Regions from separate parts of the Homo sapiens genome. Here regions 1 and 3 are each linked to region 2. Evidence: fine-mapped expression QTL. A gene starts in region 2. Each other region holds a variant in brackets. All regions are shown on one strand. Distances are between the middles of the regions. Region 1 overlaps GALNT7 (polypeptide N-acetylgalactosaminyltransferase 7). Region 2 holds the start of GALNT7 (polypeptide N-acetylgalactosaminyltransferase 7). Region 3 overlaps GALNT7 (polypeptide N-acetylgalactosaminyltransferase 7).

What was found.
Region 1: its variant is fine-mapped to the expression of GALNT7 in blood mononuclear cells (TOPMed, PIP 0.95).
Region 3: its variant is fine-mapped to the expression of GALNT7 in tibial artery (GTEx, PIP 0.99).

What each region holds. Positions count from the first base shown.
Region 1 is chr4:173,297,226-173,308,147 of GRCh38, reverse strand. GALNT7 (polypeptide N-acetylgalactosaminyltransferase 7) reads right to left here. Exons shown (of 12, transcript NM_017423.3): 6 at 9,851-10,033; 7 at 5,984-6,101; 8 at 4,030-4,152. Among named protein-coding and RNA genes, the nearest start is that of HMGB2, 32 kb to the left of the region's middle. RefSeq lists enhancers at 1-685, 686-1,468. The variant C/T (reference allele first, on the strand shown) is at 4,966.
Region 2 is chr4:173,162,630-173,173,551 of GRCh38, reverse strand. It overlaps GALNT7 (polypeptide N-acetylgalactosaminyltransferase 7), which reads right to left and starts at 4,741. Exons shown (of 12, transcript NM_017423.3): 1 at 4,591-4,741. The coding sequence starts at 4,716. GALNT7-DT (GALNT7 divergent transcript) reads left to right here and starts at 3,900. Exons shown (of 7, transcript NR_134242.1): 1 at 3,900-4,688; 2 at 5,439-5,590; 3 at 6,762-6,907; 4 at 7,253-7,428; 5 at 8,420-8,574; 6 at 9,199-9,259. RefSeq lists silencers at 3,363-4,592, 4,823-4,942, 5,013-5,062 and enhancers at 5,373-5,472, 7,551-7,630.
Region 3 is chr4:173,214,635-173,225,556 of GRCh38, reverse strand. All of the region lies in intron 1 of GALNT7 (polypeptide N-acetylgalactosaminyltransferase 7), which reads right to left. Among named protein-coding and RNA genes, the nearest start is that of MIR548T, 48 kb to the left of the region's middle. The variant T/C (reference allele first, on the strand shown) is at 4,603.

The sequences.
Region 1 (10,922 bases), 130 kb before region 2:
CAGCAACACAATGGAGGAAAAGAAACGAAGAATATCTACATAGGACAGGATCACCTGTGAGGTCTACATACCTGAGGCACAAGGAGATAGCTAGGAACAAAGAAGAAAGGCAGATGCTATTGGTATCGGCCATGCAGCAGGAACTACCATAGTTTCCAGAGGCCTGCTCCCTAGAGGACACTGGCATCACTTGCCACTGAGGTAAACGACAGCCCTTCTGCTGGGGAACCCCAGAGAGGGAGATGCATCTGAACATTCACCACCATCCAAGCAGCAGCTACTCTTGAATTACTTTGGGCAAAGCTCTGCCAATTCTCCCATGGCCCAGTGAGCCCTGATCCTGAAGCCACAGTTGTTCTGCTAGTGTCCACATTGCAGCCCCAGGCTCTGTGGCTGCACTGGGCCTGCCCCGACACTAGAACCATTGCTATAGTTCGTTCATGCTCCAGGCCTCAGAGCCACGCCTTTATTGTGCATGCCCCATCTCCAGGCCCTGGATCAGCTGCAACAGAGAGCTAGAACCCACCCCAACTCAGGAGCTGCTCTAACTCTACGCATGCTTCTGCTCCTTTCCTTGGCTCTAAAAGCTACTTCACAAGCATCTGGGCCTCACATACTGCTACCAACATGGCAGCAGAGGTACCTATGTCCCAAGCACCAGCTCAGCTGCCATAGAGACCTAGGCACCACTCTGTCCCTAGAGCTGGATTAACTCTGAGCACATCTGTGCTCCCATTCTTGGCTACTTCAGCTGTCTCACAAACATCTGGTACCTCGCATTCTGTTATCAATACAGTAGCGAAATATCTGTGCCCTAAGTCCTGGGGTTTTTAAACTGTCCAAGATCCTGTAGCCATAGTCTCTCCACTCATGCTTGTGCTTCAGTCCTCAGCTCCCCAGCCACTCTACAAGGGCCACTGCCGCTGCAAGTGAGCCTATGAGTCAGAACCAGTGCCAAGGGGCATTCAACTTCTGCAATGAGAGAAAAATCAGGATGACCTTGGCAGCCATACCCAAAGACCCCAACATGCCTCACTGCCACTATAGATATCTACAGCATTAGCCACTGAGGAGCACTAGAATCTTTGCCAACACTGACCTTGGTGGGCTGATCTGCACAGGGAATATATACCTGGTATCCTCAGTAGTCCCAGAACTGCTATATCCCACCAAGCAAGTACCCTCACACCTTCCTTCCCCCATAGAGGAAGCTGAAACCAGCCTGTAAAGTCCGCAAGAGGTGACTGGTCCACAAAATGCACAGGCATTAATGTAAGTCAATAAGAAACTGAAAAATGAAGAGGACATAATACCACTAGAAGATCACAATAATCTCCCAGTAGTAGACCTGGATAAATAATTCTAAATAATTGTTTTACAGAAGCTCAGTTACCTTCAATCAAACACAGAGAAATAATTGAAATAACATTTACAATGACCAAGTGGGCTTTATCCCTGGGATGCAAGGATGATTCAACATACACAAATCAGTAAATGTGATACTCCACATTAACAGAATGAAGGACAAAAACCATATAATCATCTCAATAGATGTGAAAAAGGCATTTGACAAAATTCAATGTAAAAAGCTTCAACAAATTACATGAGGATTGTACCTCAACACAATAAAGGCCATACATGACAAGTCCACAGCAAACATTATACTCAATGATGAAAAGTTGAAAGCTCTTCCTCTACAATTAAGAACAAGACAAGGATGCCCACTCTCCCCACTTCTATTCAACATACTACTGGAAGTTTTAGCCAGAGCAACTAGACAAGAGAAAGAAAAGACATCCAAATCAGAAAAGAAGTAAACTGTCTCTGCAGATGACATAATCTTATATATTCAAAACCCTAAAGAGACTCTATTAAAAAGCTGTTAGAACTAATAAACAAATCTAATAAAGTTGCAGGAAAATCAACATAGAAAAATCAGTAGTGTTTCTATATGCTAACGGTGGTCTATCTGTAAAACAAACTAAGAAAACAATCCGATTTACAATAGCTAAGCAAAACAATAAAATATTTAGGAGGTGAAAAAATCTACATGCTGAAAACTATAAAACACTGATGAAATAAATTGAAGAATACACAAAATAAATGGAAAGATACCCTGTGATCATGGATTCAAAGAACTAATATTATTAAAATATCCATATTATAAAAGCAAACTACAGATTCAATATAATCTCTATCTAAATTCCAAGGACATTTTTCCCAGAAATAAAAAAATCCATCCTAAAATTCATATGGATCCACAAAAAACCCTGAATAGCTAAAGCAATCTTGAGCAAAAAGAACGAAGCTGGAGGCATCACACTACCTGATTTCAAAATCTACTACTAAGCTATAGTAATCAAAACAGTATGGTACTCACATAAAAACAGACACATAGACCAAAAGAACAGAACAGAGAGGCCAGAAATAATCCACGCATTTATGGTCAATTGATTTTCAAGGTAGATGCTGAGAACACATGAGGGAAAACACAGTCTCTTCAATAAATGGAAAACTAGATATCCATATGCAAAAGAATGAAACTAGACCTTCATCTCACACCATATATAAAAATCAACTCAAAATGGATTAAAAACTTACGTGAAGTCCTAAAACTGTAACACTTCTAAAAGAAAAAATTCCATGATATTGGTTTTGGATGTAACAACCCCAAAAGAACAGGCAACAAAAATAAAAATAGACTAATGGAATTATATCAAACTAAGAAGCTTCTGTAAGCAAAGGAAACAATTAACAAAGTAGACAATCTATGGAATGGGAGGCTACATCTGCAAACCATACATCTGGTAAGGGCTAATATCCGTAACATAGAAGGAACTCAAACAAATCAATAGTAAGGAAACAACCTGATTAAATTGGGCAAAGGACCTGAATAGATATTTCTCAAAAGAAGACATACAACTAGCCAACAGTTATATGAAGAAATGCTCAACATCATTAATTATCAGAGAAATGCAAATTAAACCACAAGATACCCTTCCCACCTGTTGGTGGGAATGCAAAATGGTGCAGCCATTATGGGAAAACAGTACAGAGGTTCCTCAGAATATTAAAAATAGAACTATCATCTGATCTAGCAATCTCATTACTAGGTATATATCCAAAGGACATAAAATCTGTATATCGAAGAGGTATCTACACTCCTGTTCATTGCAGCAGTATTCACGATAGTCAAGATATGGAATCAAGCTAAGTGTCCATCAACAGATGAATGGGTAAAGAAAATATGGTATATATACATGATGGTATTAATACTATGCACCCTTAAATAATAAAAAAATCCTGTCACTTGCAACAACATGGAGAATATTATGTTAAATGAAATAAGCCAGGCACAGAAAGACAAACACTGCATGATATTACTTACATGTGGAGTGTAAACAAGTAAACAGATAGTAAAATGGTGGTTACCAGAAGGTGAGGATTGGGGGGAGTGGGCTGATTTTGGTCAAAGGACACAAAACTTCTGTTAGGAACAATAGTTTTAAGAGATCTATTATACAACATGGTGACTACAATTTATAATATATTACATATATGAAAATTGCTGAGAACAAATTTTAAGTGTTCTCAGCACAAAAACAAGTAGGTGACGTAATACATGTCCAAATAGCCAGATTTAGCCATCCCCACAATGTATACATATATCAAAACATCATATTGTACAAGATACATACAATATTTACTTGTCAATTAAAAAAATAGGGTGCAATCTTTTTTTTTTTTAAGAGATGGGGTCTCGTTCTGTCATCCAGCGGGGAGTGCAGTGGTGCAATCATAGCTCACTGCAGCCTTGAACTCCTGGGCTCAAGGAATCCTCCTGCTTCAGCTGAATAATCTTAAAGAACAATAAGATATTTCGTGAATAAGTCTAGCTAAGTTAAAGGTGAGAATCAACATGACTGCTGAAGAGCCCACTCAATAAGCTGACAATTGTTAAGTAACTACTATAGCATGTGGTACATAAATGTTAGTTCCCTGTCCTCCCCTTTTATCCAAAAAACTCACCTTCAGAGTTGGAGAAGACCCAACATAAATGGGCGGAGGATTTCCTTGCCAGCCCTCAAGACGGTAGATATGTCCAACACGAGAACAAGGAACAAATAATAATTTGCCACCACACTGCCATATCTATGAAGGAAAAACACGTTGTGAAAGTTGTTTCAAATACAAACATAAACCATAACTGAAAATTTATCTTGTAAGTGTAAATCTAAAATCTAAATTATATACAGTGTCCACACAGAATTCTTAAACTAAACAAATCCTAAAATAATTTGCTTTTAAAAGCTCATGTAACAACCAAGAAGGCAACAGGGAATACAGTATTAATAATAAACTGCTACTAAGGGGCCTCTTACTGTGTACTCATAGCCCCTAGCAACTTTCTCCCAATATAACCTTGCAAAGTCATGTGGATTCTTTATTCCTAACTCATTAATCATTTCCATTGCTAATATATTTCCTACTTGGGTGATTATTATAATAAACTCCTAACTGGCTTCTTCACCTTCGGCTTCTCTCTACTCAACTATCCTTATTTATAGCAAGAGATTATTATAGGTGAAGGGCAGCTTTGGGTCATGTTATTCCCTTGCTTAATATCTTTGATCGTTCTCCACTGCTTATCAAATTAAATAAAAATCTCTTAACTCAGCTTTAAAGGCTCTCTTCAATATGGCCCTAATACACCTTCCCATTTTATCTTCTTAGATGTCTTCCTTATTCATGTTGCTTGATTCTGCCAAAGTTTGCTCCTTGCTGTTCTCTGAATGTTCCTTGTGTTCTCTTCTTTGTACTTTTCCCCATGCTACTTGCTTAGAAGTCCCCCTCCCATCCCTTATCTGTGCTTACTAACATCATACCCATCTTCCTACTTCTGCCGCAAATTCTGCATCTAGCATAACGCTCGCTCTTTCTTTTTTTTTTTTTGAGACGGAGTCT[C/T]GCTCTGTCCCCCAGGCTGGAGTGCAGTGGTGCGATCTCGGCTCACTACAATCTCCGCCTCCCAGATTCAAGCAATTCCCCTGCCTCAGCCTCCCGAGTATCTGGGACTACAGGTGTGTACCACCACACCCGGCTAATTTTTTGTATTTTAGTAGAGATGGGGTTTCACCATGTTGGCTAGGATGGTCTCGATCTCTTGACCTCATGATCCGCCCATGTTGGCCTCCCAAAGTGATGGGTTTATAGGCATGAGCGCCTGGCCGACGGTTTTTTAAGCACACCAACTGAATGCCATTCTGCCTTCTTGTATTATGAATTTAAGTATAATTCTAATATCTTCTTATCAAGTTCCTTGAGAGCAACAACTGGTTTACTCCTCTTCTATCCCTCACAGTGCTACGCACAGGACATTTAAGACAAGAGGTAATGAATACCTGTTTAACTCACACTCTGATATAGTTCTCTCTCTCTTTCTTTTGGAAAATGGGGGTAGGAATAGGGGTTGAGGTGGGGGCTGGAGCATGGAAGATAGTATTGCTCCCAGACTGCTTCAACAACAGGGTGGATGCTGCAGGAAGACAGCGCCAAAGTCAGCCTGAGGATACAGTCATTGTGGGGCTCTGCTTCTGTCTTGAATCATGTCCTACAGTGGTAAAGGGTGACTGTGTCAGTGGGTGGTCAATTGTGGCCCTAACGCATGCAGATTCTTCCAAGGGCTTCTATAATAAAAAGCTCCAATATATAGAAAGTTGGGGTGTGGGGGTAGATATTTTCATTTCTAAAGCTTGCTAGCCACAATTTTGAGCTGAGCCCTGTAAATATATGGTAAGTTTGGAGCTTGCATTTTGCCTTATTTTTTCCTCAAAGGCATCCATTTTCATTAAATCATTCTATACAATTTGGAGAAATGCATGATATAATTGTGGGCTTTTTTCCCCCACAAAAAACTAGCTTTATCTGAAAGCCACAGAAGTTAGTAACGACTTGGAGAATTCCATCTGTTGAAATAAAATGTTACCTTGTATGAGATCTCAAAGTTTTCACCACCCCAAATCTGGAGACCTGGATCATAGAGACCCAATTCAAAGAAGAACTCTCGTTCAATGGCAAATAATCCCCCAGCCATGGCTGGGGACCTAAGAAAAAGAAACACTGCAATAACCATTACAGACAAACCCCCAATAACCCTTCACCAATAGGCAAGAAGCCTTGTAGAATACAGCCTGAAAATGCATAGAAGAGACAAAACTGATGGCCAAACATTAAGAAATTATAAAGCCTTTACAAAAAAAGAAAAAAATCTGTTCATAATTCCCTAACGAATTTACCACAATTTCTAACTGAAACTGTAGCTCATTACAAAATAGAGCATTGTTTGAGTTCACCATTAGAGGGCGCCTTGGTACCTCTGTGGATTTAAAAATTAAGCCTTAGTTTTAGTTAAAATAGAATTTTCTCTTTCACTCTTAAAAACACTGAGCCATACAGCCGTGGTCTGCTAACTGCTCCTGCATTGATTTATGAGTCATTCTTGGGTGAACAAAACCATACACCATGGAAGTAGTCTGTCATTTTTTAATTTTATAGCTCAGGGGCTCGCCAAATAACAGTGTAAATCATTGTAGAACAACCACAGTTCATTCAGAGTTTGCAAATGTAGCACAGAAATGACACAGGAGAATTAGATATAGATATTTACTGTGCCAGGAGGTAGGAATGCAAAAGGGTGACCTGTGTATCTGTGGGGCTTCTTGAATGGATCTTAAATTGGACACTTTTTAGGTCCAAGAGAAAAAAGATTTGGTAGCTTCTTAGGGACAAGTCACTCCCACCATTGGGAGAAATTACAGCAGAATTTATCTTGCTCCCTGCTCCCCTCCCCTGAACAATTAATTACTAATCCATCATGATTCTTAAATTTTAGGGTACTCAGTATTATTAGGGTAACTTCATCATCATACATAATATTCAATCTACTCAAATAGGTTCAATGGAACCTATTTCAAGGTTCCATTGATTCTACCTTGAAAAAAAAATCTTTTTTTTTTGAGACATAGTCTCACTCTATGGCCCAGCCTGGAGTACAGTGGCATGATTGCGGCTCACTGCAGTCTTGACCTTCTGGGCTCAAGCAGTCCTCCCACCTCAGCCTCCTGAGTAGCTGGGACTACAAGCGCACACCAACACATCCAGCTACCTTTTTATGTATTTTGTAGAGATGGGGTTTCGCCATGTTGCTCAGACTGGTCTAGAACTCCTGGGCTCAAAAGTTCCACCTGCCTAGGCCTCCCTAAGTGCTAGGATTATAGGCATGAGCCACTGCACCCAGCCTTGAAAATACATCTTGAATCTGCTGACTTATTTCCAACTTCACTGCCACCAGCCTAGACCAGGCCAACACTGCTTGGACTTTCCAATATCTCCCGAGCTTGTGTCCTTTATTGTCTTCTGCCCCCTGCTCAAGGCTAATCACACAGGGGCCAGAGCAGACTCCTCCACATGCGCCTGCATGATACCAGCCTCTCCCGGCTCTCTGGGCTCACCATGGACTCTCTTCCCGTTGAGTCCTTCACGGCTCTGCTCCCACCGGGAACGTGCCAGCCTCCTTTCTGTCTTAAGGCCTTCATTCATGTTATTCACGATCCTGAAATGTTCCTTCTCCTTTTCCACAGAATTGGTCCCTCATCCTTCAGGTCTCAGCCTAAATGACACTTTGTCAGAAGGGCCTTTCCTGATCTCCCAAGCTGGATTAGGTTCATCTTTCCATAAACTCATGTACTCTGTGATTTTTCTTCATACTACTTATCACAGCTGCTGTTCCAGAGTTTTGTTTGTTTTGTGAGACAGGGTCTCACTCTGTTGCCCAGGCTGCAGTACAGTGGCACAATCATTGTTCACTGAAGCCTTGAACTCCTGGGCTCAAGCAATCCCTCTGCCTCAGTCTCCTGAGTTGCTGGGACTACAGGCACGTGCCACCACACCAGGCTAATTTTAGGGTTATTTATGCAGTTATCTGTTTAATTTCTGTCTGATTCACTGTATTTTAAATTCAATGAGGAAACATATCTTTAAAAATGTATCCCCAGAAAACAGTGCTTGGCATACAGTAAGCATTCAATAAACGTTTGTTGAGTGGATAATGAATCAAGAAATATTTTCAATACTAGAAGAAAATAGCATCAGAAAAAAGTTGTTCTCTCATGCTTTTTCTTCTTAAAATATGCTGCCTAACACAGTAACAACACTATTACATTTTAGGTGATATTTTCATGTCACCTTTATTTAACTGTCATTTAAGATTATTCCGTTATAGCTGTGTCTTTTTTTTTTTGTTTTTGAGACCAAGTCTTACTCTGTTGCCCAGGCTGGAGTGCAATGGCGTGATCCTGACTCACTGTAACCTCCACCTCCCAGGTTCAAGCGATTCTCCTGCCTCAGCCTCCCAAGTAGCTGGGATTACAGGCACACACCACCACGCCCAGCTAATTTTGTATATTTAGTAGAAATGGGGTTTCACCATGTTAGCAAGGTTGATCTCGAACTCCTGACCTCTGGTGATCCGCCTGCCTCGGCCTCCCAAAGTGCTGGGATTACAGGTGTGAGCCACCTTGCCCGGCAGCTGGGTTTATTTTTCTTCAAATATGTTCCCATTCATCTCAGTATATACTTGAAAATGCATCTTAACATGGTCACCAGTGAGTTAATCAACAGATAACCTCCCTTTAATTTTTCTAGGTCACTTTAAAAATTTTCTTTACTGGCCTATGGAATTAACAGAAATATAAATTTGCTCAGCACCCTTTATTTTTTTTCTCCCACAGTTATTTGTTAAGTTAAGCACGTAAGCAGTTGATTCCTGGACTATTCTGAATAAGAAATTTACCAAAAAAAATTTGGTAAATGTCCAATTAAGCTACTATGATTAATTAAGTGCTATAACTTCTTTATGTTTGCCATTCAGTATCTTGATATCATGACATGCCCAAATCCCACAGCGTTTCCATAACATTGGAAGCACCTTCCCAAAACAGAGTTCTAACATCACCAGCAGTGTAACAGGGAGAGAGAGACCAAAAGCAGAACCATAGGATCAGAAAAATAAGATTAGACACATTCAGGAGAAGGCTATACTAACACTTGAGCAAACATTTCATTTGGGGTCACTTTTTACAGAGACAGTAAAATGTTCTAATTACAAGATCAAAAGAAGAGAGTAGCATAAGTTGTTCTACTGAAAGAACCACAAGAAGGGACAAAAGCTGATTTTTGAATAGAGTTTTCTTTTAATCAATCACTTTTCTGAGAATGAAGCAATAAAGGATTCTATGTAACATTTTTTAAAGTCATGTATTGTGATTCATCAGATTTAACTAGTACAAAATTAGTATTTGAGAGTTAACATAACAGCAAAAGGGGAGAAAAACCCAGAAATCTCTTGCTAGTGCCCTTCATTGTTAACATTATACCCACGGCATGAACGTGGAAATAAAAGTCTTGGTTGGATTAAAGTAATTTATGTATTTTAAATTTATAGAATGACACTGTCATCAAAAGAATAAAATTTGATGTCTAATCCAGTAGGACAGGATAACTAAGATTTTATCTTTTTTTCACTTGTACGTGGAACAAATGCCATGTTACATTATTTTTCTTTCCCCAATGAAAGTGTGTACGTCTCAGTAGTGGACATCACATTTAGGGTAAAAGCAATTACAATGGAGCAAATGGAGCAGATTGAAAGCTCTGAAACAGTGTAAGGAAAGATGTTCTTTCAGAATCTGAGACAACATCTACAGTTTTAATAACGAATCTTTAGCTTGGCAAGAGGTTAATAGGTTAGCAGCAACTGGAGAAAAGAAAAATATGTAAGTGATTTAGTGATTACCGATACGGTTCAGTTTTTGTCTTTCTCAGTCTCTTCTCTTGAGGGGTCAGAGGCACCCGTTTCCAGAGCATACTCCAATCCCATGCTCCTCGGGCATACCCATCTTCATCACCACCCCCTTGGGGTATAATTTCATATGTGTTGCCATTTATGACATCTATAAGCGGCACAGTGCAAATGGTTCTGTATTGTGTTGATGGCAGCAAAGATCAAATGGAAGCGTATGTATGGACCCACACATTTATACGAGTTCATGGGGAAGAAAAAAAAAAGAACTTAGATAAACATTCAACATAAGAAAATAAAGTAATAGTCTTTACCGATAAGGTTCAGTTTTATGTTTTCTTTTGGCCTTTTCCTTGTGGCTTAGAGGAATACGTTTCCATAGTAAACTCCAGTCCCAGGCCCCTCTGGCAAAACCATCTTCATCCCCACCTTGCTGTGGTTCAATGGAATAATCATTCCCATCTATGTAATCTATTAGAGGCACAGTACATGTAGTTCTGAAACATTTACAGAAAATGAAAAAGCATTTAAGAACCCAAGACTAGTTCAGCATGCCTAACTACGTTATCTCTTTTTGTTGTTGATTTGTTTGTGCACTAGGGGACTTTAATATCTAATGGGAAATAGAGTAAATGAATGTCCCATAAAAGCCGAAAAGCCTGTTTACGTAAGGGCAGGAGAGAGGAGACTTCCCCCTAGGCTTACAGACAAATGTCAGGGACAAAGAACTATATCACTGAGCTTAATAGAGTTTTCTCCTTTTCGCTTTGGTCCTAAAGGCAACTTTCTTTTGGTAATTTTACCTTATTTATAAGATTTTCTTGCCTGTTATTTTCCCTATCACCCATGAAAAAGCTCACGTGTGCGTGTGCATGCGTGTGCGTGTGTGTGGGGTCACAGATAGTACTTGCCACATTCTTAGCGGTTCTCTCAACCCTTTGTTGCTATTTCTTGGGAACAGTTATGAAAATGTGTTTCTGTACTTTTACTTGATCTTCCTCACTCCTCTAACTGCAGAAAACAGCTTTTATTGCAAAACAAACAAAAAAAAAAGGTATTGTTGCTT
Region 2 (10,922 bases):
CCCACCCAACCCAACTCCCCCAGTCTGTGGAATAATTGTCTTTGACAAAACCAGTCCCTGGTGCTAAAAAGGTGGGGGACTGCTGTTTTAATGGATCTGTCAACATTTCCTTTAAAAACCTTTATTTTCAGAGGCTTATGGGTCAACTGTAGACAGTCACTCAGGGCTAAAACCTGGGATAAATGGTGTTAGTCTGGGACATAATTTATTTAATTAAAGGAACTTTCTGTGCTTTGCAAGTCCAAGCAGATAATCTTAATAAATGCTGACCTTAAAATATCCAGAGGGCAAAGACTAAAAAAAAAAAAGCTTCCCATAATCATAAAATACAATACAAGAAGGTATACATTTTGCTTTGAGAACTTTCCATAATGAAACAAATAATCTATCATCCTAGGCCTCCTGACACCTTCACTACCATATCCAATAGCCAAATCCTGATGCCTTTGCATCTTTAGGAGCTCTTGAATCAATTTATTTTTTTCTATCTCTACCACCGCCCTGCCAATCTAAGCAAGGATTATGTCCCACCTGAATAATGATGACCCCCACCAGGACTCCTGCTACCTGTTCTATAGACAAATACATACTTTCTGTAGGCAGCCAGAGTGATCTTTTCAAAACACAAATCCACTCTTCCCTACTTAAAATCTTTCAACGGCTTCTCACCGCACTTAAGATCTCCTCCTTAGCATGGACTACGAGACCCATGCTTTCCTGTGTGGCATCATTCTACTTGTCATTCTCCACGTTCCAACAATATTTATCTCCTAGTTTCTCACTATTTCACTCATGCTACCTCCTGCCTCAGGACCTTTGCCCAAATGCTCCTTCTCAAGAATGCTGCCACCCACTTCCAGATTAACTACTTTTCTTGAAATGTTCAGATTTCGCCTCAAAAGTCAGAGTAGGCAGCTAGGCAGACATGAGCAGGGCAGGAAAGGCCCCCCACCACCAGGAATGTCAGGCGGCCATCAGGTGATGGTCAGGCCGTTGTTAAACTGTCTCTCTGAAATAATAATTGGTCGCGCCAACACCATGGAAAGGCAGTCTCCCATTAGATAGAAAACACCTAAAGCTGGTTATCAGCAGGTTCCCACTAAGATCTCAGGAGTTGGGCAAGTGGGCTCCAGCATGTGCACTAATAGGCAAAATGGCAGCTTTTAACTAGTATATGCCCTTCCTCTAGGAAGGCTCAAATTGTAAGGGAAAAATGCCTCAAGTGAGCATGAGTAAAACTTCAGTAAACACACTGCAGGCAGCCCCTCCCCGCTGCTGGCAGGCCACTGCGCATGCAGACAGCCCACCCCAAGGGAAGAATCACGGGAGAAGAAACGCAAACCCTGGAATCATGCCAATGTATAAAACCCCAAGTCCAGGGTCAGACGAGGTACTTGGATTTCTCAAGTAGCCCACATGGCCTTCTTCAAAGTGTACTTCCTTCCGTTCCTGCTCTAAAGCTTTTTAATACTCTCACTCCTGCTCAAAAATTTGCCTCGGTCTCTCACTCTGCCTTATGCCCCTCCAATAAATTCTTTCCCACAGGAGGTAAGAATCGAGTTGCTTCAGACCTGTGTGGATTTGCTACTGCTAATAGTCATTTCTTCAAGTAAGGCTTTTATGACCAAATTCCTCCATTTTCTTGCCCCCTATGGTTTTCACTATGAAAGCAGTAGCACAATTTTTATTTATATATTTATCGAGGTTTGATTGCTGTGTGGTTTTTACAAGATCCATGAGATTAAGGACAAGGAGTATTTCCTTAACAACTAGTACCATGCCTGGTATATAATTGGCACTCAAAAATGTTCAAATAAATCAATATTTAAAATCACACAACAGAATATGATCGGAAATGTAAGGTCATTTTTCACATCATTCACTTCAGAGAAAGGGCAAGAGGCCCAGAGATGGGAAGGAAATAAGAAACATGTTTCTTTTGTCTTGACTCCACAGGTGGACAGACCTAAAACAAGGAAATAGTGCAGATGAGAAAGGACCATCCCAAGTTGTCAAGGCTGTAACAGAATTTAGTGTATGACATATTCATAGTTCAAGACAAAAAGTGGCACAGGGTGAATGGAGCCACAGGTACAAGCTTGCTGGAGTAGAGGCAGAACCCATACCTGGTAAACTGGATCGTTCAGGCTATTTAAAGGGATCCAAAAAAGTCCATGTGTAGATCAGCATTAAAGAGAAGCAGAGATCTCACCATGGGTGGAATATATGCAATAGTCATCGAAGTAAAAGAACCACAAGGGGGAGGAGAAACTCAGGAGTCAGAATCCTCCCTACAGGATTTGTCCTTCTAGCACTGTACCTTAAAAGCTCCTAGGTTAGTCTTTATTAAAGGAAGGCAATAATCCCTTATTTATGCTCTTATTATTTATAAGCTACACTTTAAATTGCTTGTATTACTATTTACCTGGGAAGCCAATAAAAGGGTCTTTCTTGCTCTTCTGATACCTAAGCATTCCTCTTAATGTTAATTATGTTAAGTCTTTAAAATCTACCTTTTGTTTTTGACAAATGACAGAAATTACACTGGATCCACTGAGAAACTTTATCAAGTACACTGAAACAAACAAAAAATCAAGATATCATCACCTTCTTTATCATCACCATATAGTACTGAAATGGGCATTATGGCCCATCCTTTGTTTGCACTAATAAAATATTCCACGAGTTGGCAAGTGATGCTGATGTTCCGCCACCTCTTTAAAAGATCATCAGAAGGGCGGGACATTCTGAACCTAGCTAGTTTTGTCAGTTTTTCGTCAGTTTCTCTACCAGAAAATAGGGGGTTAAACATTTCTAGCTACATGTAAAAAGCCATTTGATGACTTAAAACAAATATCCTCAATTGCAATATTCAGTTATCCTTTGTCAATAAGTCATATTGAGAGCAAAATTATAAAAAGATCACCATCACTCCATGAGCTGAGAAGCTTAAAACCGCAAATGTACTGAAAAGGAAAACTGATACTTTTTATTACCATCAATTTAGATGACTTAGATGGGAATCTATCCCAGATATTACAAAGGGATTCCACTGCTGTAGAGACTTCAAATACTAAAACTTCCAGATTACATCTAATCTCATGATATAGGCGAAGAGCTGATAATGGGATCTCCTCCTAGGATTCTTACTCTTGAAAGGACGCCACAAGCCTTTTTGCCCAACTTCTTGATGCTAACTTTCCAGAAGGAAAGTTAAATAAACATGACATAGAAGCGATGCTCATCACACTTGCAAAAAGCACTTTACAACAGAGAGAGCGACTCGACTCCTCCTGCAGCCCCGCCGCCTCGGCGGTCGTGAGCCCCTCATACCCTCTCCTACCCCCACTGGCAGCCGGCCCAGTTGGCTGTCCCAGCGGGGAGGAGGAAGCAGGTGGTGCAACGGTTCATCCGGGGGGAAGCAGGTCAGGGTCGGGGGCGAGGCCGGTGCGCGCCGCCCGCTGCCGGGTCAGGGAAGCCGCAGTGCCCGCGGTCCCTTCCCCGCGCGGCGCGGCTCCGGGTAACTAATGTTCCGAGGCGCCTGACTAAACCCTCCAAATCCAAGGAATGTCAGCGCTAACACTCGCGCCCTGGGCGGCAGACAAATGCGTCCCAGCGGAGCCGCCGCGAGCTCCGCGCCGCCGCTCCCCTCGGCGTCGGCCTGAGCTAGCCGGCAGCCGGCGCGGGGCGGCCGGGCGCCGACACAAGTTAGTTTTCCGGCCCAAGCAGCCCTGCCGCAGCCAAGGAAGAGGAACTGCTCCTCTTCCCCCGGATAGCGCCCGAGCACTGCCACAGCAGGGGCTTCCCCAGGCGCTGAGGGCTGGGGGCGGCGGGCAGGCGGGGCGGGGACGCCCCTCCGCCATCTCCGGCCAACCGCCCCTCCCTCGCCCAGGGACGCGAGGGGGACCGGCGGTCCGGGCGAGGCCTCGGCCGCGCATCGCACCCCGGCTCCCCGCCGCCGGAGTTGAGGGGGAGGCGCGCTCTCCGTAAGAGCCGGAGGCGGGGCGCCATCGCCCTCCCACTCCCCGGCGGGCGGGCCGGGGGAGCCCGGGGCTGCGAACACCCCCAGACGGGCGGCTGCGGGAGGGGAGGCTGGACCAAGGGGCCTGGTCCACCGGACCAGCGGTGGCGGCATCGGCATCTCGCCTCCTTCAGGCCTGCACGCGCCACAGGCCGCAGCCTGGACCAACCCCGCGTCCCCGGGCCGTGAGCGCTGCGGTCCCGGCCCCCCAGAGCGGGACGCCGGGCGGCCGCAGCCCCCCGGACCCGGCTCTCCGCCCGCTCCGCCCGCAGTCCCGGCGCGGAGAGCGGCCGCCCGAGCCGCTGCCGCGGCAGCGCGGGTGTCGGCGACGGAGCCCGGGGCGGGGAAGAGCGGAGGAAGGGGCGGCGAGGGGGCGGGCCGGCGGCGGCCAGGGAGGTCGGAGTGCGCGGGGCTCGGCACCCCCTCGGCCCGCGCTGCGCCAGCACCACCTGCGGAGCTGCGGTGCCCACGCCGTGCCGCGACCCCGCCGCCCCTGCTCCCTCCACACGCGGGCAAACAAAACAAGTTGCCGGTCGCTGCCGCCGGAGGGGGCCGGGCGGGTCACTCACCCTCATCCTGCTCAGCGGGCTTGGGTCGTCCGGCCGCGGGGTCAGGGAAGACCAGAGGACCACTAGCCCCAGGAAGCTTCCCACCACCAGCAAACTGCGTAAGATGAACCCAATCTTCAGCCTCATCTTCCTCCGGCGGCGAGAGACTCACAGCCCGGCGCAGCCGCCGCCACCGCTCTCCCCTCCCTCCTTCCCCCTCCTCCGGCTCTCCTCCCCCTCTTTCCCCCACCCCTACCGCTACGGCTGCCGCCCTCTCCGCTGCCTGCCCTTTCCAGCTCCAGATCCGGAACTCCCCTCGGCTACACCTTTCCCCGGGCTCTTCCCTCCGCTCCTCCCCGTGGCCCCCTCCCCTCTGGCGGCCACCGCAGAGCTCCGACTGACCCGTGTGCCTCGCTCTGCCAGGCTGCCTTCCTCTCTACCTGCCCCCTTCCAGATCCGCAGTCCCCTGCTCTCCACGCGAGCCCCCTTCACAGTCCCTGCTACCTTGTAACTAACTTGCACTTTTCCCGAGTCCGGTTCTTAGCCTTTGCCCTGCAGCTCAGCTCCTTAAAGCTTTCAGATCCCCAAACTTTTATTGTAATTATGGACAATAACTCCGTCCTTAACGCCTGTGCCCTCCGGGATCCCGTGGCCCGCCGCCCCCTCCGTTGGACCTGGAGTCGCTCTCGTCTGCACCTCTCCCTTAGACCCACTTCCCTGAGCCCCTTGTCGAGAGGCTTTCAGGAAGCCAACCAGGAAGTGGGACTACCGCTGCTGCTGCAGCAGCTCCACGTGGCTGATTTATAGCTGAAGGGTTTTTTTTTTTCCTTCTTATTGATTGTTCTTGCTTTTTCACACGGCTCCTTAAGGTGGTGAATTTGTAACCGAAAGGCCCAGGTGAGATGTGCAAATATCACTGGATTGGAGGAGCTCACTTGGAAAGCCAGTATTCCTCCTGAGCTAATGAAAAGAAAGGCTGTCGTCTTATGCCAAAAGCAATACCAACCTTGTTCACGGGCTGGTAAGTTTCAAATCCAAGGACCACGGATTTCAACTCCACCCTCATTGCGTCCCTCAGATCTGATATTTGCCACTTGATTTCTGCTTTTCAAACGCCTTTTCTGCCTGTGTTACCTAAATTACACAGTAAAGGATATTGGCAAGTGTTTAGCCAAATGCCCCACCCTGAGGAAATAATTTTTCTGCCCATATCTCCCAATAAAGATGTCTATGCCTTTATAGCAGAATGTATGTAATTACATTATCAGTGTACTATATCCTAAACTGCTAATTTAAATTTAAGTCGAACAAAACGTTTTAAGATTTTATCCTAAGTTTTTTGGGGTTTTTTTTCTTTTCTTTTTTTTTTTTTTTTTTTTTTTTTTTTTTTTTTTTTTTTGAGACGGAGTCTCTCACTCTGTCACCCAGGCTGGAGTAGAGTGCAGTGGTGCGATCTTGGCTCACCTCAACCTCCACCTCTCGGGTTCAAGCAATTCTCCTGCCTCAGCCTCCCCCGTAGCTGGGACTACAAGTGCACACCGCCACGCCCAGCTAATTTTTTTTTTTTTTGTATTTTAGTAGAGACGAGGTTTCACGGTGTTGCCCAGGCTGGTCTCGAACTCCTGAGCTCAGGCAATCTGCCTCGTACTCCCAAAGTGCTAGGATTACAGCTGTGAGCCACCACACCTAGGCTATCCTAAGTTTTAAGATGGTAACAGCTGATTCTTTTTTCTCGTACTGTCTCACATCTGCAAGTTTTTTGCTTTAAAACAAAGCTCAGTTATGTAAAGTTTTACAGTGAAACAATTTCAATTATCAAGATAGATAAAGAATTATACCAAACTACCTTCATGTGCTTTTTGGCTTGGCTTACAATAGCTAGTATATCAGGGAGTTCTGTAGATGCCATAATTTCAAAATTTCCACAAAATATCTGAAGTGATATCCTCATGAACAGCATGGTTCCGGAAATGTAGAATGGATTGTAGTTAGGTGTATTATTGGTTGGCTGAAGGACTGTACATCATATTGTATAAAAGTCCACTATATAGAGTACCTGGAAGAGGGACTGTCAAGTGTTAAACACAAATCACTGCTTGACTTAGCATTTATATCAGCCCCTTAGGTTAAAACCAGTTGTTTTAAGTAGAAGATGAGAGATTTTGCCTAAGACCATTTTTTTTGTGTGACAGAGATCTAGAGTGTGTAATTCACGAAGTATGAATCTGCTGGGTAATGTGATATGAAAAGCGAATGCACCATTTCTTGGTGATGATTCAGGTCAGCGTTGGGACCCAGGAATCTCCTGTTAATCAGTACCCTGGTGATTTTGATCCAGGTAATCTGGGCACCACCTTTGGAGAAACACTGAAAGGAAGCAAGGTTGCGGGGGGTGGTTGGGAAAAGTCTTATATGGATATCTTTGGAAGACAGAAATAGGCTCATTTATGGACTCAACTTGAACTGTTCAGAAGTGAGGTGGACTCCTTTTCTTTTTTATTTATTTTTTTTTTGAGTTGAGGTCTTGCTCTGTCACCCAGGCTGGAGTGCAGTGGCACATCCATAGCTCACTGCAGCCTGGAACTCCTGGGCTCAAGTGATCTTCCCACCTCAACCTCCCGAGTAGCTAGGACCACATGTGTGAGTCATCATGCCCAGCTAATTTTTTTTTTATTTTTTGTAGAGACGGGGTCTATTATCTGGTCCTGTTGTCAAGGCTGGTCTCAAACTCCTGGCCTCCAGCGATCCTCCCTTTTTGGCCTCCCAAGATGCTGGTATTACAGGCATGAGCCACCATGGTCCACCCGGACTCCTTTTCATAGGAGACAGTTCCCTAGGCAGAGACTGGGCTTGAAACAGGTAACTTACAAGGCATCCTGTGATCATAAGAGAATAATTCCATTTGAAATCAGCAGCTGAAGTCCACCTGAATAATTAAGTCTTTCACTTGTGTTATTTTCACAGGGGAGACAGTTTTTTATTCTTAAGAAGGTAGGAAGCTTTATTTTTACTGTTATGAGCATAGCTGGGCAAGTATGCAAATGGAAAGTGATACCTATCATCAAAGTATTGAGGATGGTCCTTTGAAGGCCCTAGTATTCTGAGAACATCCTGCCACCACTACCACCCCCCAACTTTAGTTTTACACAGAGAACTTAAAATATGTGTGAAAGAGTATATAGTTATACAGTTGTATATTGATGAATAGGTATATAGTTGTAAAAGTTTATGTTTCTCTGAGTCTTAATAACTTTTAAAAGAAACTGCAAGTAAACTAACACAGGAACAGAAAACGAAATATTGCATGTTCTCACTTATAAGTGGGAGCTAAATGATGAGAACACATGGACACATAGAGGGGAACAACACACACTGGGGCCTATTGGAGGGTGGAGGGTGGGAGGAGGGAGAGGATCAGGAAAAATAACTAATGTGGGTACTAGGCTTAATACCTGGGTGATGAAATAATCTGTACAAACCCCCATAACACAAGTTTACCTATGTACCAAACCTGCACATGTACCCCTGAACTTAAAAGTTTAAAAAAAGTGCAAATATACCTTAAAACATATGCCCATTGCAGTATTTGCTGGGAGGCAGCCTTTGTAGGGTTGACAGAACTCGTTTAGAAAATGAGGAGCTACATTCAAAGCTTCAGTCAAGATAAATCACGTACCTCTCTGAACCTAGGGCTTTTATCTGCCAAATAGTGATTACAATACTCAACCTTATGATGTTCTCAAAAGGAATAATTGAGATCAAGTACATATACAAATATAAAGTACAATTAGTGTAATGGAACAAGTCTCAGGTGCGTGTGGCTATAATTCTTGTTTTATGAATGCTGCAGTTCCTCTAAAGAAGAGGGTAGAGACTAGAACTGAATGAGATGGACATAGAGATGGCCAAGAAAAGCATCGTCCTCTGCCAAGTCATGGGGTCATGTGTGGTGGATGGTGACATGGTGTCCTCAGCTCAGAGTCCAGCTGGGGGCTCAGAAGCAAGGTAACTGAAGGGAGAGAATTATTTGAGCACCTAGTGTGTGTAAGATGCTTCACATTTATTATTTCACCTAACCTCTACACAACCTGTTGTGGGTATTACTGGTCTCAAGCTGGGATTCAAAGCAGGTTTTTCCAACCTCAGAATTCTTGCCAGACTGATTAGCCTTCTGCATCTGGAACATAAATGTTTTCAGGCAGCATAATGTGCAAGAGGTCAGAGCCTAAAGCTTTGTTATTTTTTAATTTCTCCACCATGTCAACTCTGTTACAGGGAAGCCCAGCAGAGGGAATTGTATCCATTTTGGGGCTACACTACCCCAATGCTATGCTGCAGCCAAGCTGAACTTCTAAGTTTCTAAATGTAACTCACTTACCTTCAGGCCTTTGTACGGGGAGTTCTTTTTGCCTGAAATACCTTCTGACATCTTAACATTACGCTTAGATGTCAGTTACAAAAAAGCTTTTTCTAGACTCTCTCACATGTCCCACTCCACACCCCTATATCTCTTCCCACCAATGTACTAGGGTAGGTATCCTGCTAGGTACTTCCACTGCACCCTCTACTTTTCTTCCCTAATGATTACCACTATATTGTAATTGCTTAATTTCTTTTTCCTATACCCAGATAAAAATGTGTATGAAGGTGGAGCCTTGTCTATCTAGTTCGTTATTGTTATCCGTGTCTGGTATGTGGAAAGGGCTCAGTGAGTATTTCTTGATGGAATGCTGAATGAATAATGGGATTGAAAATATAAAAGGCAGACAAAACTTAGAAGAGGGGCCAGGTTTACTTCAATTGCTATTCCTCCTCACTGGGAGGTTTTTCTTCCAAGGACAAAACTTTGGAGGTTTTATTAAATTAGAAAAGTGATTATTTTACATATGGTCATCATCATCAATTGATAGGCTGTTGTTTCCCCCTTACTCAGCATCCTACTAAGGCTGCTTAGAACTAAGAAGAAAGGGTAATTTTAATTTAAGTTCATATTTTTGTATGTACGGAGATTTAAAAAAAACAGCTACATTAAAATGGGAATATGTAGCCATAGGGAATTATTTGCAAACAAATTTCAGTATTATCTATGTGTGGTTGCCAAGAACTCAGGTTAAATTAGAGTCAGTGACCTCTAAATGACTAAATATCCTATCACCTATTCTATAAGCCATTTAATCACCTCTTTTCAAAGAAGAAGAGCACAATTGGTAGTATCTTTAAAGGAAGATACATTTTATTGTTTAGAAAATAACTACTATTTAGATATCAAGGGAAGCATAGTGTAAGTTTGTTAAGAATTTATTAATTTTGTGTACTGTTCATTAGTTACCTCTTACTGCTTAACAAATGACTCCAAAGTTTAGCACTTTCAAACAACAAACATTTACTTCACACAGTTCCTGAAGTCAGGAATCTAAGAGTGGCTTAACAAGGTGGTCTGGCTCAGGGTCTCTCATGAGGTTCTTACCAAACTATCAGCTGGGACCACTATCATAACCAACTGGGCCTGGAGAATTTGCTGTCAAGTTCACCCACATGGCCAGCAGGCAGGCCTCAGTTCCTCACTGGCAGGCGGTGGGAGGCTTCAGTTCCTTGTCACCTGGGCTTCTCCACAGGGCTACTCATGACATGCCAAGCTGACTTCCCCCCTTCATGAAAGATCTGAGGGAGAGAGAGCCCAAGGCAGAATCCACAGTCTTGTATAAGAAATAATCTGTATACTGCCTTCATCTGTAAAATGAAGGTGTTGGACCAAATGATCTTTAACATTCTTTCCAATACTGAAATTCTGAGATTTTCCTATGATGCCGATGTGTGATTGAGACTAATTTGTGCTTTCATGTGGAATACTATGAGGTAAAATCCTGCCTTTGTACTTTTTTTCTGACATGGGGTACTATTTCTATCATAAGCTTGAGATGGATAATTCCTGAGTTGTGCTCATCTGGAATAAAGGACTGTTGTCAAGGGCTTCCATTTAATGAGGTTAAGGGTCTCCTACAGTGTTTGGAAAGCAAAAATATTTATGTAAAAGCCCTCAGATTTCACATCGTAGAACACTACCTCTTCATAATTTGGTACTGTTTTTGGACTCCCATAATTCAGAAGTGCTCTTCTGATCTAACCATTTATTTAAGAGGTGATTGAAACGGATTTTGTCTCTTACCACTCTTGTTTAAAACCTCTTCAACAGCTTCCCATTGCTCTTATATTTAAGCCCAAATTCCTCCATTTATTACAAAGCCTTTGTGAGCTTGCCTCTGCTTACCTCTGCAGCCCCATGGCTGGTCAGTTATCCCCTCTTTTGCAACTTAAACTATAGCCATGTTGATTTTCTCTCCATTTCTGAAATA
Region 3 (10,922 bases), 52 kb before region 2:
CAATGCTAAATATGCAATAAATGCTAGGCCATTATTAAATAATGTTTTAAATCCTGTTTTAAAAAACAGGATTACTGTTTAAAATCTTCTGAAGAACTGTAAGGAAGATATTGAGGATAATGATAGCCTATGAAAAGTTACTGTTCATGCCAGTAGCTTCTAAGCTCCCTATACCATCTTCCTGCAAATTCTTGATTTTTCTTTTTACTTCCCAGTCAACCCTTTTCCCATTTCCTTAAACATTTCTCCCTGTGCCCAGTAATTCTGTAATTACATTATAACAAAATTATAAAAATGTCTAAGAAGGAAAAAAGAGGGGAGGGAGGATTGAGAGATATGACCCAAAGTAAAACAGATTTCACATATTCCAGCAGTCCTGAGGCTGACTAGGGCAGGAGATCATGGATTGGTTATTTTAAAAATACAAACCTACAATCTGACAAAATTCTATCTCCAGGATTCTAATTCAGAAGATCTTGGGGAAGTGGGCACAGATATAATTATAATTATTATTATTATTATTATTATTATTATTATTTTTTGAGACAGAGTCTCGCTCTGTCGTCCAGGCTAGAGTGCAGTGGCACAATTTCGGCTCACTGCAAGCTCCGCCTCCCGGGTTCACACCATTCTCCTGCCTCAGCCTCCCGAGTAGCTGGGACTACAGGCGCGCGCCACCACGCCTGGCTAATTTTTTTTTTAATTTTTAGTAGAGACGGGGTTTCACCGTGTTAGCCAGGATGGTCTGGATCTCCTGACCTCGTGATCCGCCCGCCTCGGCCTCCCAAAGTGCTGGGATTACAGGCGTGAGCCACCGCGCCCGGCCAATATTTGCATTTTTAAAAACTCCCCAGGGACAGAAAGAATTGCAAAGAAATCTTAAACTTCGTTCAGAATTTTATTGTAATTCAAAACTATATATGTATATATGAATCAAATAAATATATTGCAAGTTTTAAGTGTGATATACAAATATAATTTTTAAAATTAATGTTAAATTTAAATTACAAATACTAACATGAACTCATGATTAAGAGAAATACACATATTTCCTTGCACTGTCCACTGAAAAGGTCAAGAAGCAAAGATACAAGTACAATAGGTATGCCTAACACTTAGAGCTTGATTTATACATACCATCCTTCACTAAAAAGAACTGAGGTTCCTTGAAGAAATGGTTGATTTGGGGTCTGAGGCAGGAAATTGGAAGGTGAGCAAATTTAGTTGTGTCAGAAAGAAAAGTAGCCCTGAAAAAATAATGGGAAAAATTCGATATGGTGAGATCTACTCGAAACGTGGTAAAGGGGAAGGATTACAAATTACCCTAACTTTTTAGAAGAAACTGTAGTCGACCCACAGTTGATAAAGAAATGCTCACCTTTACAGAAGAAGGCCAGCTAATCAATGTAGATGTAACAACAGAGTCTGATGGAACAATAGATTCTGGTAGGGACAAAAGGATGGTTTCCTTTAGGTGAAATGTTAGCAACAGGATATTCACATAGTACCAAACTACCATCCAGACACGTTTGTTATTTACAAAAAAAAAGAGATCTGCTACTTACCACCATGAACAAATGATTAAATACAATTACCAGCGATGAAACAACCTGACGTCATTTGCCACCTGATGTAATGCAATATGAAGTACACACATCAATGAAGAAGTATTTTTATCAATAATGTTTTACCTAAACTCAAATCAAGCCAAGACTTATACAGATAGGTCTATGTATATACACACAGAGGGAGAGAAAGGCAGAGAGAGAAACCAAATTTGTTAAAATATTAACAGCTATTGAATTTAGGAGGTACTTGTATGAATGTTCATTGTACTAGTCTTTCAGCTTTTTGTATATGGGAAGAAAATTTTAGTTATAAAAAGCTTGAGAAAAATAACATTAAAAATGTTCTTTAGGTGATTTTAGTGATCATTCAGCTTGACAAATTTTGGACTGCGGGGGGTGGGGGTCTCATTTATGGAAAAGAGTTAAGTTTATTCCAAGAGTGAAGGAATTCCTAAAGAAAATATGCATAACAAAATGCATTGTGCAGTTCTTTTTCATTTAGTAACATTACTGAATAGTTATGCTACCATTACAGAGTTTTTATATAAGAGCTAGTATGATTTGCTTCTCTTAGATCAAAGTGAAATACAGGTATAACTCAGGTTATATCTTGCTATATAAAAATCTTGCTAATTAAAAAAACTCTATCACTTAATTTATTCACCATATGTATTGAATCATTAATATAGGTTAGAAAAAGGCAGGATATGGTGTGAAAAAGGGAGGGGAAGTTTATTGCATTTAAAAGGCAATGAATGGAGTCCTATGCAGAATAGACTGTGTGATCTGACTTTTTGATGACTACAGTGTGTATCAATGGTTATAATTCTTGCACTCACTTATCAGGCAGCTTTTGAAGGGCTCATCTTTTGTTAAAAAGATTGCTGGTCCTTAGGAAGCTCCATCTAAGTACAAGTGTTTCCTAGAATTAATGTAGAGAAGTGCTGAGGCTAGGATGAAATTTTTTTTTAGGATTCTTATTGTGAAAAAAAATTATCCTATTATTGGCAAAAATGATCCATTGGCAGAAACTAGCAGTCTAACCTCTAACCTTAGCAGTCTAACCTTAGTAGTCATTTTATTTAAAACATCTAACCTTAATAGTCATTTTATTTAAAACATCTAACCTTAGTAGTCATTTTATTTAAAACATCGTTGCAGGTCAATGGTAGAAAGAATTGAGCTCAGCTGTAAAGTGGGAGTCACAAATCCCATTGTACAGCCAATGCCTTCCATTAATTAGCTATATAATCGCAGGTAAATAGCAATTAACTCATTGATAAAATGGGGATAATAATAAGTGTCCAATATCAGTCACAGAACTGTCAAGAAGATCAAATGAGATCATGTGTAGGAGAACACTTTATACAAAAGTTCCATCTAAATGTAATCGATTAAGGAAGGGCAGGCATAAAGTTTCTAAAGAAGTGTTTAGAATGGCTAAATCTTCATTGTTTCAAATGCATAATTTTTAAAGAATAGCTGATTTTGGAGTTCAAGACCAGCCTGGCCAACATGGCAAAACCCTGCCTCTACTAAAAATACAACAATTAGTCGGACATGGTGGTGGACACCTGTAATCCTAGCTACTCAGGAGACTGAGGCAGGAGAATCCTAGAACCCAAGAGGTAGAGGTTGCAGTGAGCCGACATCACGTCATTGCACTCCAGCCTGGGGGTCAGAGCGAGACTCCATCTCAAAAAATAATAATAATAAAATTAAATTAAAAATTGCATTTTAAAACAAACCAATACCAAGCATAAATATGTGGTATAGATTATTAAAGTAATGTTGAGATCATCACTGTGCAACAAATGCCCCCACTCACACAAAGGTTTACTGAGGGTCTGCCAAGCACGCGCTGATACCATGGCCTAGCATGACTCAGTGAACTGTTATGGTTCCTAGTTCTATCATGAGGCAGGGGCAGAGAGTCACACCAGCACTGAGAAACTACAGCATCCAATAGCTTAATTTTATGCCTTCTGAATCGAATTCGGGCTTGTATTTTGTATGCTTTTAAAATGTTCACTTTGTTACTAAGGTTTCTGAGTCATGCTAAAATAGTGTATCTCTCACAAGAACAATCTCTGACCAGTAGTAATTAAAGAATGGGGAAAGTTGAATAAATCTGAATTATATATCCCATTGAAGTAACTGTAATTAATTTAAATCTTTGTTTATGTAATAAAGTCTAGATGTGACAGCAAAACTTAACCAAAATTTGAGTCAGAGCCGAATGTTAAAACTGGAGATATCTGCCTTTTAACTTTCTCAAAGAAAGTTAAAATAGTTCATTAACTATTTGATAGATAATACTATTGAAATATTAAAGTTCTCTATAAATCAAATGCTAAGTTAATTAAGGAATGTTCTAAGTCTGAATCTGGAAACTACAATTTTAGAATGTAGTTTTATTCTATCGGTTGTTCCATAATTTCAATTAGTCTCAAAAAGACCTATAATTTTATTTCATTTATTAGTCTCTCACCAAAGAATTACATCTCTGACCTAATATGATTAATAGCTCTACTCTATTTGAAAAATTCAGCTCAGCATTGATTGCTTCTCCATTTTATTCATGTTGACTTTTATTCCTAGGCTAGAGAATAACTCCATAAGGGAAGAAACTCTTCCTGTCTTTCTTCTGCTGTAACTCCAGCATCTAGTAGATCTCCTGAAATAATAGAAGACATTTATGCAGCCAAGAAACAAATGAAAAAATGCTCACCATCACTGGCCATCAGAGAAATGCAAATCAAAACCACAATGAGATATCATCTCACACCAGTTAGAATGGCGATCATTAAAAAGTCAGGAAACAACAGGTGCTGGAGAGGATGTGGAGAAATAGGAACACTTTTACACTGTTGGTGGGACTGTAAACTAGTTCAACCATTGTGGAAGTCAGTGTGGCGATTCCTCAGGGATCTAGAACTAGAAATACCATTTGACCCAGCCATCCCATTACTGGGTATATACCCAAAGGACTATAAATCATGCTGCTATAAAGACACATGCACACGTATGTTTA[T/C]TGCGGCACTATCCACAATAGCAAAGACTTGGAACCAACCCAAATGTCCAACAATGATAGACTGGATTAAGAAAATGTAGCACATATACACCATGGAGTACTATGCAGCCATAAAAAATGATGAGTTCACGTCCTTTGTAGGGACATGGATGAAGTTGGAAATTATCATTCTCAGTAAACCATCGCAAGAACAAGAAACCAAACACCGCATATTCTCACTCATAGGTGGGAACTGAACAATGAGAACACGTGGACACAGGAAGGGGAACATCACACTCTGGGGACTGTTGTGGGGTGGGGGGAGGGGGGAGGGATAGCACTGGAAGATATACCTAATGCTAGATGACGAGTTAATGGGTGCAGCGCACCAGCATGTCACATGTATACGTATGTAACTAACCTGCACATTGTGCACATGTACCCTAAAACTTAAAGTATAATAATAATTTTTTTAAAAAAAGAAATAAAACCAAAAAAGAGCTCGCATAGCCAATGCAAGACTAAGCAAAAGAACAAATCTGGAGGTATTACATTTCCCAACTTCAAACTATACCATGAGATCACAGTCACCAAAACAGCAATGATACTGGTATAAAAATAGGCATATAGAACAACAGAACAGAATAGAAAACCCAGAAATAAAGCCAAATACTTACAGTCAACTGATCTTCAACAAAGCAAACAAAAACATAAAGTGGGGAAAGGACACTGTATTCAACAAATGGTGCTAAATGGCAAATCACATGTAAAAGAATGAAGCTGGTTCCTCATCTCTCACCTTATACAAAAATCAACTCAAGATAGATCAAAGACTTAAATCTAAGATCCAAAACCACAAAAATTCTAGAAGATAACCCTGGGAAAACTTTCTAGACAATAGCTTTGTTAGGCAAAGACTTCATGACTAAGGACCCAAAAGCAAATGCAACAAAAACAAAGATAAATACACAGGACTTAATTGAACTAAAAAGCTTCTGCACAGCAAAAGAAATAATTAGCAGAGTAAACAGACAACCCACAGAGTGGGAGAAAATCTTCACAATCTATACATCCAACAAAGGACTAATATCCAGAATCTACAAGGAACTCACACAAATCAGCAAGAAAAAAACAAACAATCCCATTAAAAAGTAGGCTAAGGAAACGAACAGACAATTCTCAAAAGAAGATACACAAATGGCCAAAAAAAATGAAAAAATGCTCGATATCACTAATTATGAGGGAAATGCAAATCAAAACCACAATGTGATACCACCTTATTCCTGCAAGAATTACCGTAATCAAAAAAATCAAACAATAATAGATATTGGCATGGATGTGGTGAAAAGGGAACACTTTTACTCTGTTGGTGGGAATGTAAACTAGTACAACCACTGTGGAAAACAGTGTGGAGATTCCTTAAAGAACTAAAAGTAGAACTACCATTTGATCCAGCAATCCCACACCTGGGTATGTACCCAGAGGAAAAGAAGTCATTATAGAAAAAGATACCTGCACACATATTTATAGCAGCACAATTCGCAATTGCAAAAACATGGAACCAGCCCAAATGCCCATCAATCAACGAGTGGATAAAGAAACCGTGGTATGTATGTGTATGTATACACACACACACACACACCATGGAACACTACTCAGACATAAAAAGGAATGAAATAATGGCATTTGCAGCAACCTGGATGCAACTGGAGGGTAAGTAAGTGAAGTAACTCAGGAATGGAAAGCCAAACATCATATGCTCTCACTCATAAGTGAGAGCTAAGCTAAGAGGACACAAAAGCATAAGAATGATATAATGGACTTTGGGGACTCGGGAAAGACTGGGAGGGAGGAGAGGGATAAAAGACTACACATTGGCTACAGTGACATTGCTCAGATGATAGGTGCACCAAAATCTTGGAAATCACCACTAAAGAACTTATTCATGTAAACAAACACCACTTGTACCCAAAAACCTGTTGAAAAAAAAAATTTTTTTAAGAAAAAAGAAAACAACTAAAATGACCAAGAATTTAGTAGTTGGTGACTGCTTGAGGGGAGAGACCATGACTCATTTATCTTTGCATACCAGGCATCTAGCACAGTATGAGAGGAAACCCAGAACCAGCAGGGGGTCAATAAATGCTGGTTGAATAAAATAAACAAGTGATGAATGAATGGAAGCACTGGGCAACTGACAAAATTTAAAAGAATACATGTGCTTATCACTAAGATATTTTGATATTTACCACAAACTCTAAGCAGAAATTCTATTTTACTATTATTATTTGTACTGGACACTATCAATCCTTCTACAGTCAACACAATGTGAATAGCAATGCTTAACTTAAAGAAACAGGAAATCTAAGTGGCTGGGAAACTTGCCTGAGTTGCTCTTTTTAGGTACCTGTGCATAATTTCCTTCAAACAACTGTCAATAAAACACCCACCCCCACACACCCTTCTCAGTGGCCCTGCTTGGATGCTGTTTCCAAAGCAAAGGAAACAAAATATTGAGGGAGAATTTTAGGTAAGGGCAATACTATCTTGTTCTCCATAATTTAAAAATCCTCTCAAATTTACTATAAGAGCTTTTTAGCTTTTCAGAAAATCGTCTCACGTTTTTTCAATTGGATTAGTAGCTAAAGTAAAACCATTTACCCAACTCCTAAATTCCAGCAATCTTTTCTAAGCCTTAGGGAACTGAGTAAGATTCATTTTTCTTTTTATATCAGAAGCCTTATTTGGTTCATAAATGAAATGACTTCTAATCTACAGAAAATGTCTATGCTAAGATTAGAGGATAAACCAGAATCACTAATCTATCTTTATTATCATTTATGCTGAAGAAACTCTCCCAAGCCCAATGAATAGCATAAGGTATTGAAATTTAATCTGTCTCCCTACCCTGTCTCCAGAAGCCAAGACAAAATTTAACAAAGTGATTCAGGCAGAGAAATTACAGTTATTGTGAAGTTTAATCAGAGAACTCTCTGGAGCGGGATGTCTTTATGACTGTATTTTATAAACAATTGTCAGTACCCTTAGCATTTTTTTATCTTTTGGCTTTATAGGGAGTATCTTACAATAGGCACAATCTTCTATAAGCAAGGTTGCAATGCAAGTTTATCAACCCACTCCTTAATGACTCACAGAGTGAAAGCAGGCTGCAAAATATCTGTTTCTCACCAAGTCTGCACAGAAGTTTGATGTGTATTAAATTTCATCTTCACTGTGTGTCTTAAAGCGCATATGGCTAAATGTGGGTATGAAGGTTTAAGAAAAATTATGAATGGCAAAAAACATAAACCATCCCCTATTACTTAGGCAAAGAAATGTAGAAGATTCCAAGAGTTGAATCTTAAAAACAATAGAAATATTAAGTCCAATTTAAATAAGAAAGCTATGGAAGGTAATTTTGGTTTTCTTTCGTAGAAAATTGTTTTAAAATGCACAAACTAAAACATGCTTTTCACTTCAACCTTATGTTCTAGTAGATGTCAAAATCTACTAAATATTATTAGGGTAAATTAATGGACTATTACCATATGAAGTGAAAATAACCTAAGTAGGATGCATAATATTGTATTTTGAAATGTTCTTCCAATGGTAGTAATAGTTTATTACTATCAAGCTATCCTCACTGACAACCTTGTCCCCACCATGAACAAGCGACACACCCTTCTGTAAGAAGGGTAATAACTCAGGATTTGATCTGTGACTGTGCAGCTAACAAAACTAATCTATATGAGGATCATGCCTATACATGTATATGCATTTTTTAACTTAATGGCACCATTCTCTGGTTAACTGGGCAAAGTGACCATGTATTCTTTTTAATGTACTTACAGTAGATGAGTGACTGATCTGATAATGTGGCCAAAAAACAAGAACCAGATTTTCCGCAGATCAAATTTTCTAAAGTATATAAAAATATATAATAAGGGCCAGGCATGGTGGCTCACACCTGTAATCCCAGCACTTTGGGAGGCCGAGGCAGGCGGATCACCCGAGGTCAGGAGTTCAAGATCAGCCTGGCCAACATGGTGAAACCTCGTCTCTACTAAAAATACAAAAATTAGCCAGGCGTGGTGGCAGGTACCTGTAGTCCCAGCTACTCGGGAGGCTGAGACAGGAGAATCACTTGAAGCTGGGAGGCAGAGGTTGCAGTGAGCCGAGATTGCGCCATTGCACTCCAGCCTGGGGGACAAGAGTGAGACTCCGTCTCCAAAAAAAAAAAAAAAAAAATATATATATATATATATATATGAATAGTACACAAGAAACCAAATTACTGAAACTACAAGACAGTAGCCCCAGCCCAGCCCAGGAACCCTCACACCTGGGGAACACAACCACCACTCAGTTGCCAAATAGAGAGCCAAATACTGAATGTTTACTAAAGAATACATCCTAGTAGGTTCTTTCATATATAATTATCTCACAAAATCCTCCTGACAACCATAGTTTTTATAAAAGAAAACACTGAGACTTGGAAAGGTGAAATGATTTATCTAAGTCAATACAACTGGTACTAACAACTGACAAAGTCAGGATTCGAACACAGACGTCCTTGATGTCAAAAGCCCAGTAACACATTACGCCCTCCACTATTGTACTTATCTATTTTAAGCATTTAGATTGTTGTATATTTCATGTAGATTCGACTGATTTGGCTGATTATTTGGATGGTTTAAGTTTACCTTTGCACTTTTAATGAAGAAAGTGTTTGCTAAAGTAAATCAGTAGTTGAAACAATATTAAAAGAGAAAAGGGTGAACATATTCAAATATCATATAGAATCATAACATAGACATCATTATTAGTTCACTTTAAAGCCAGCTTGTGGGCTTTTTTTTAGACAGAGTCTTGCTCTGTCACCCAGGCTGGAGTGTGTGATCGCAGCTCACTGCAACATCTGCTTTTCAGGCTCAAGCCATCCTCCCACCTCAGCCTCCCAAGTAGCTGGGACTACAGGCCCATGCTGCCATGCCCGGCTGATTTCTTTATTTTTATTTTTTTATTTTTAGAGAGAGAAGGGGTTTCACCATGTTGCCCAGGCTGGTCTCGAACTCCTGGGCTCAAGCAATCTGCCGCCTTGGCCTCCCAAAGTGCTGGGATTACGGGCGTGAACCACTGCACCCGGCCTTTTAAAGCCTGTTTTGAAGGTCTGAGTATTTGTAAAAATGTAGTTCATATTTTCTAGCTCAATCTTAATTACTGGAACAGTTTCAAAATAATTGACAAAAAGAAGAGTGGATTTTATATGGTTCTATTGTCAGAATGCTCCTTGAAAGGATTCCTTGAGCCTGATGAAATTCCACATCCTGAAACTTCTCAAGTCAGGCTAGGTCTTAGGGTCAAAACAACGGGCCCTCCCCCAGCTCACAGCTCTGATCCCCAGTCGGGTTCCCCAGGACTTGGGTGCATTAAAAGGAGAACAGCAGGCCGGGTATGGTGGCTGACACCTGCAATCCCAGCACTTCGAAAGGCCGAGGCAGCGGATCACCTGAGGTCAGGAGTTCAAGACCAGCCTGGGCAACATGGTGAACCCCCGTCTCTACTAAAAATACAAAAAGTAGCCAGGCATGGTGGCACACGCCTGTAATCACTGCTACTTGGAAGGTAGAGGCAGGAGAATCGCTTGAATCCAGGAGACGGATATTGCAGTGAGCCGAGATCACACCACTGCTCTCCAGCCTGGGCGACAGAACAAGACTCCATATCAAAAAAAAAAAAAAAAGAAGAAGAAGAGCAGAGGTTGGTGGTGGGGCCAGTGGGTATTCAGAACCTCTTGGATAGTTGGATTTGTTCTTTCAACTAACTTTCTTTGTGTATCCACCATATTTCTAGCCAACATGGCTGTGGGAATACAAGAGATAAAAGTCATAGCATTTGCTTTCCAGGAGCTTAGATTCTGGTAGGGAAGAAAGAAAGCAGGGGATCATGATAGGATTACAGAAAGGAATGGGTCCACATGTCCAAGCCACAACTTAACTATAAGAACTGGCATTTGGCCATCACCAAGGCAGTCAGTGTATTCCTGAAGCACGACCGTAGGCTAGATGCCAGGATGTGTTGGTACTGCCTCTGCTATTTGAGAGGTTTTGAGTAACATTTTGGAAAATGCTGTCACTACTAGGGCTGGAAAGAGCATTAAAAAAAAAAAAAAATCCAAGTCATAAGTTTGGAAGCAAAAGGAAGACAAGGAAGACAGGTTACTACTTGATTCCATCAAGGCATTCTATAAACTCTCTGCTGCCAAGTGCCAGAAATTTGACTCTACCAGGCTTGAGAAGTTGAATTTGGACTAGTGGTTGAAACAGCTCTATTGAGAACTT